Linked DNA regions of Homo sapiens. The protein of the gene in region 1 purifies or fractionates together with the protein of each later gene. This does not show direct contact. Each region holds a gene or a part of one and is shown in the gene's direction. Other genes may lie near its edges.

The links.
Region 2: the proteins of CD226 (region 1) and TMEM192 purify together in Homo sapiens (co-immunoprecipitation; 2 studies listed by BioGRID and IntAct, with this or other methods). This does not show direct contact.

The regions. Positions count from the first base shown.
Region 1 is NC_000018.10:69,937,874-69,941,373, reverse strand, and holds part of CD226 (CD226 antigen isoform a precursor), read left to right. Parts: intron 1-3,500.
Region 2 is NC_000004.12:165,095,861-165,099,360, reverse strand, and holds part of TMEM192 (transmembrane protein 192), read left to right. Parts: intron 1-3,500.

The DNA.
Region 1 (3,500 bases):
GTGTCTGTGGCTTCTCCAGTTGCATGGTGCAAGCCGTCTGTGGATCAGATTCAGATTGTGGGGTCTGAAGGATGGTGGCCCTCTTCTCACAGCTCTACTAGACAGTGCCCCAGTGGGGATTCTGTGTGGGGGCTCCAACCCCACATTTCCCTGCTGCAGTGCCCTAGCAGAGGTCTTCCATGAGGGCTCTGCCCTTGCAGCAACTTCTGAATGGACACCCAGGTGTTTCTGTACATTTTCTGAAGTCTAGGCAGAGGTTCTCAAACCACAGTTCTTGACTTCTGTGCACCCGCAGGCCCAACACCACGTGTAAGCTGTCAAGGCTTGGGGCTTGCACCCTCTGAAGCAACAGCCTGAGCTGTATGTTGGCCCCTTTTAGCCGTGGCTGGGACATAGGGCACCATATGCAGTCCCGAGGCTGCATAGAGCAGGGGGTCTTAGGCTTGGCCCAGGAAATCACTTTTCCCTCCTAGGCTTATGATGGAAGGGGCTGCCATGAAGGTCTCTGACATGCCTTGGAGACATTTTCCCCATTGTCTTGGTGATTTACATTTGGCTCCTCATTACTTATGCAAATTTCTGCAGCTGGCTGGAATTTCTTCCCAGAAAATGTTTTTCTTTTCTGTCGCATCATCAGGCTGCAAATTTTCCAAATTTTTTATGCTCTGCTTCCTCTTGAATGCTTTGCCCCTTAGAAGTTTCTTCTGCCAGATACCCTAAATTATCTCTCTCAAGTTCAAAGTTCCACAGATCTCTGGGGCAGGGGCAAAATGCCACCAAACTCTTTGCATAGCAAGAGTGACCTTTACTCCATTTCCCAAAAAGTTCCTCATCTCCATCTGAGACCACCTCAGCCTGGACTTCATTGTTTATATCACTGTCAGCATTTTGGTCAATGTCATTCAACAAATTTCTAGGAAGTTCCCAAATTTCCCACATTTTCCTGTCTTCTTCTGAGCCCTCAAAACTGTTCCAACCTCTACCTGTTACCCAGTTCCAAAGTTGCTTTCACACTTGTGGATATCTTTACAGCAACCCTCCACTCTCTGCTGTACTCATTTACTGTATTACTCAGTTTTCATGCTGCTAATAAAGACATACCTGAGACAGGGTAATTTATAAAGGAAAGAGGTTTAATTGATTCTCAGTTCAGTATGGGTGGGGAGGCCTCAGGAAACTTACAATCATGGTGGAAGGGGAAGCAAATATGTCCTTCACATGGTAGCAGGGAGAAGAAGAGTGAGTGCCCAGAGCAGGGGAAGCCCCTTATAAAACCATCAGATCTCATGAGAACTAACTCACTATCATGAGAACAGGATGGGGGAAACCACCCCCATGATTCAGTTATCTCCACCTGGTCTCTCCCACGACACGTGAGGGTTATGGGAACTACAACTCAAGATGAGATTTGGGTGGGCACACGGCCAAATTATATCATATGATCATGGAGACTGATAAGCCCAAATTTGCAGTGTGGGCTTGCAGGCTGCAGACCCAGGAGAGCCGATGGTACAGGTGAAGCCCAGGTCATCTGCTGCAGAATCCCTCTTGCTTGGGGAGGCTGGTCTTTTTGTTGAATTAGGCTCACCTACATTATGGAGGCAAACTGCTTATTCAAAATTCACCAATTTAAATGTTAATCTCATCCCAAAACACCCTTCAAATTGACACGTAAAATTAACCATCATACCTGTTTTGGAAAATGATATGGCATTAGCTAGTTAAAAACCCCAAATCCTATGATCCAATAATTCTACTCTGTTTGGTATCCAAGAGTTCTCTCATTATAGGGAAAATTCCTGACAATATTTATAGCAACAGTGATTGCAATAGCAAAAAATTGGTAACAACCCAAATACCCATCAACAGTAGAACCGAAAAGCACACTGAGGTCTATTCACACATTAGGATACTCTACATCACTAAAATGAGTGAATTATCACTTGCTCACCGACATGGATGAAGCTCATGAACTTTGTGTTGAAAGAAAAGAGCAAGTTACCAAAAAAAATAGGTAAACTAGGGTTCCTTTTCTTTAAAGGTTTTAGAAATATGCATAATTAAACAATACGTTATTTATAGATACAAACGTGGTAAAACTATAAAGAAAAGCAAAGTTCAGAAACATGGTAGGTGGGGGATAGAATAGAATCAGGAAGGGCTGAAAGGGTCTTTAAGGCTCATAGTCAGGGTGTTTTCCTTATACAGGTGTTTTATTTTGCATTTGTCTCAAAATGTTTTAGAAGATTTCTTTCAAATCTACTGATTTCTTTTTCTTTTCCTTTTTTGAGACAGAGTCTCACTCTGTTGCCCAGGCTGGAGTGCAGTGGCATGATCTCAGCTCATTGCAACCTCTGCCTCCTGGGTTCAAGTGGTTCTCCTGCCTCAGCCTCCTGAGTAGCTGGGATTACAGGCCTGCATCATCACACCCAGCTAATTTTTGTATTTTTGTAGAGATGGGGGTTTTGCCATGTTGGCCAGGCTGATCTCAAACTCCTGACCTCAGGTGATCCACCCCACCTTGGCCTCCCAAAGTGCTGGAATTACAGGCATAGGCCACCTTGCCTGGCCAAATCTACTGATTTCTAATGGTGAAAAGAGATGTGATTGCAATTTTTGAGCAGTTGAAAGCTCTAAGGTAAGGATGAAATCTTCATTCTGATATGGCCTGGGGGCCAGGTAGAGGTAAGTTTCAGCAATGGTTTCAAATTTTTATGATCCAAGGACTAAAAAATGATGATTTTAGTGAAAAAGATGTGAAATTAAGAGACCAACTTGGCTAGCAAGAGTGGAATTAAGTCTGTTTCAGGTGTATTAAATTGTAAAGTAGCCTTTGACCAGCTGACAATTGAAATTATGGAACAACAAACCAGGATTGAAAATATCCAATTTGAAGTCATCTGAATGATCATCCAGCACATGTGGATGGATGGGGTTAACTAAGAAAGTACCAATGGATGGGGGCAGAAGTCTAAGGTCATAGCTTGTGGCTTGGAGGATGGTCACATTGTAGTGTGTTAAAGAAGGTGTTCATGTTAAAGAATGTAGAGGGCATAGAGAAAAGAGGGGGAGAGTTGGGAGGGAGAGGAAAGTGAACAGGTGAATTATTGATGTGAGAGCAGAAGACACATAGAACTCATATTTATAGTAGAGGGTTAGATTTTCTTGCTCCACACATGCAGGTACTTTGTGTTGGCTGTATTGTATGTTTGCTGACTCTGTGATCTCCCATATTCCAGTCCATTTATCTCAAACTGGGCACAGAGATGTTCCTCACTGTTTCCCTTTAAGAGTCTCATTCTCTCCCAGGTGGGATGAGGCTCCTTATATGCCATCCATGCTCATTCTTAGAAGGCTCTTATCTCTACACCCTTCAGGGACAAGTGTTCTCTGTCCAGGTTCCCAGCAGCTGACATAGCAGCCAAAGTTTTCTTTCATTCTTGTATATATCTGCTGGTTAGTGGCACTAAAGAGATTCCTTTAATATTAAGGGCTCCAGA
Region 2 (3,500 bases), on another chromosome or scaffold:
TAATCCCAGCACTTTGGGAGGCTGAGGTGGGCAGATCCCTTGAGGTCAGGAGTTTGAGACCAGCCTGGGCAACATGGAGAAACCCCTCTCTACTAAAAACACAAAAATTAGCCAAGTGTGGTGGTGTGCCCCTGTGGTCCCAGCTACTCTGGAAGCTGAGGTGGGAGAATTGCTTGAGCCGAGATCATGCCACTGCACTCCAGACTCCAGCCTGGGTGACAGAGTGAGACCCCATCTCAAAAAAAAAAAAAAAAAAAAGAAAGAAAAAAAGTTGTAGTAAATAACTTAGTTTCTACCTTTTAAAAAGATCCTGTTTTTCAATTTGAGTCCAGAATAAATCTTAAAAATTTTTGAATCCAGGCCAGGCTCGGTGGCTCATGCCTGTAATCCCAGCACTTTGGGAGGCCGAAGCGGAAGGATCACCTGACGTCAGGAGTTCGAGACCAGCCTGGCCAACATGGTGAAACCTCATCTCTACTAAAAATACAAACGAAAATTAGCCGGGTGTGGTGGCACGCGCCTGTAGTCCCAGCTACTTGGGAGGCTGAGGCAGGAGAATCGCTTGAACCTGGGAGGCAGAGGTTACAGTGAGCCGAAGTCATGCCGCTGCACTCCAGCCTGGGCAACAAGAGCGGAACACTGCCTCAAAAGAAAAAAAAACTTGAATCCATATGTAGTCTTCCTACTTGGAGGAGGCAGCGAGAAAAAGAAAAAGAAGGAAAAAGAAAAAAAAATTTTTTTTGAATCCAGGCTGGGCATGGTGGCTCATGCCTATAATCACAGAGCTTTGGGAGGCCAAGGTAGGAGGATTGCTTGAGGCCAGGAGTTCGAGACCAGCCTGGGCAACATAGTGAGTTCCCCCATCTCTACCAAAAATGAGAAATTTAGTGCTGTAACAAATGAGCACCAAGTTAAGTTTTAAAAAAAAAAAGAAATTCCTGGGCGTGGTGGCTCACGCCTATAATCCCAGCACTTTGGGAGGCCGAGGCGGGTAGATTCCCTGAGGTCAGGAGTTCGAGACCAGCCTGGCCAACATGGTGAAACCCTGTCTCTACTAAAAATACAAAAATTAGCTGAACGTGGTGGCGGGCAACTGTAATCCCAGCTACTCGGGAGGCTGAGGCAGGAGAATTGCTTGAATCCGGGAGGCAGAGGTTGCAGTGAGCTGCAATCATACCATTGCACTGCAGCCTGGGTGACAAGAGCGAAACTCTGTCTAAAAAAAAAATTAAGGCCGGGCACGGTGGCTCATGCCTGTAATGCTAGCATCTCAGCACTTTGGTAGGCTGAGGCGGGAGGATCACTTGAGGTCAGGAGTTTGAGACCAGCCTGGTCAACATGATGAAACCCCATCTCTACTAAAAATACAAAAATTAGCTGGGTGTGATGGCAGGTGGCTGTAATTCCAGCTACTCAGGAGGCTGAGAATCGCTTGAACCCGGGAGATCAAGATTGCAGTAAGCTGAGATCGTGCCACTCCAACCTGGGTGACAGAGTGAGACTCGATCTCTAAATAAATAAATAAATCTCTATTTCAAAATAAATAAATAAATAAGTAAAATAAAATAAAATAAATAAATTAGTCATGTGTGGTAGCCTGTGCCTGTAGTCCTAGCTACTTGGGAGGCTGAGGTGGGAGGATCCACTTGAGCCCAGGAGTTTGAGGCTGCAGTGAGCTATGATTATGCACCACACTCCAGCCTAGGTGAAAGAGTGACACCCCCCTCTATAAAAAAAGAAAAAAAAATTGGATCAAATTAGAGATTTTTTTCTCCAAAAAAAAAAAAAAAAGGCTCCACAGAATTTAACTTTTATTTTTCTTCTGTTCTGTTAGTGCATTTTCTTTTTTCTTTTTTTTTTTTTTTTTGAGATGGAGTCTCGCTCTGTCACCCAGGCTGGAGTGCAGTGGCGCTATCTCGGCTCACTGCAAGCTCCGCCTCCCGGGTTCAGGCCATTCTCCTGCCTCAGCCTCCCGAGTAGCTGGGACTGCATTCGCCCGCCACCACGCCTGGCTAATTTTTTGTATTTTTAGTAGAGACGGGGTTTCACCGTGTTAGCCAGGATGGTCTCGATCTCCTGACCTTGTGATCCGCCGGCCTCGGCCTCCCAAAGTGCTGGGATTACAGGCATGAGCCACCGCGCCCGGCCTGTTAGTGCATTTTCTTAAAGGGCATGCTGCAAGTTCATCTACTCAGTGAAATTCTCAGTGGAAGCTGAAGGGCTATGCTATATCAGCGTGAAGCAGTTTATAGAGTTGGGTGATCCTGACTGCTCTTGAAGGGGAAGCATTTATTGCTCCCTGCCTCTTGTGAGAATGAGCTTGAGAATGTTCAACTGTTGATGTGCAGCTCTCTCTTTTGGCCAGAAGATGTCAGGGTAACACAAAGATTAAAAAAAAAGAAAAAACTTAATTTTAAACTACAAAAGATCTTATATGATCTGTGACCAAAATAATACTCAGTTTCTCAAGTGATGGTCTGGAAATAGTATTTTGGAAGCTCACAAGGAGATTATTTGATCTTTACCTTTCCAAAATCTGCCTTTCAAATTTTTGTTAAACATGTGAGCCGTAATCATAATCTATTTCTGAACACTTGGACCTTTAGAATCACAGGTGATATCACGTTTATGTGGCTCATGTGAAAACCCAGAAAATCAAACGGAATGGAGCAGGTACTTACCTTATTTCTATTTTTTAAAATATTTTTTCTTATTTGCAAAAAAAAAAAAAGATAAATCTATGGAGATGTAGGATGTAGGACTTACAGATAACAGTACTGATAATATTAACTTCAGCCTGATATATTTTGTTATTTTCCAGAGAAGAAAAAAAATTATTTACCTTTGGGTGGAGATGGGAGAAAGGGCTTTGCTTTCCTACCAAGTGAAAATATTTACCTGATTAATCTGTTCTCCTTCCTTAGATCCAAATACATATATATATATATAATTTTTTTTTTGAGAGTCTTGCTCTGTTGTCCAGGCTGGAGTGCAGTGGTATGAACTCAGCTAACTGCAACCTCTGCCTCCCAGGTTCAACTGATTCTCCTGCCTCAGCCTCTCCAGGCTAGACTACAGGCACGCACCACCACACACAGCTAATTTTTATATTTTTAGTAGAGACGAGGCTTCACCATGTTGGCCAGGCTGGTCTCGAACTCCTAACCTCAGGTGATCCGCTCCCCTTGGCCTCCCATAGTGCTGGCATTACAGGCATGAGCCACTGCGCCCGGCCTAATAATATTTGAGTTCAAAATGTATTTGGGCCAGGTGCAGTGGCTCACGCCTGTAACACCAGCACTTTGGGAGGTCGAGGCAGGCAGATCACCTGATGTCAGGAGTCCAAGACAGGCCTGGCCAACATGGTGAAACCCTGTCTGTACTAAAAATACAAAAAAAAAAAAAAAAAATTAGCTGGGCATGACTGGGGTGGTGGTGGGCGCCTATAATCCCAGCTACTCAGGAGGCTGAGGCAGGAGAATTGCTTGAACCTGGGAGGT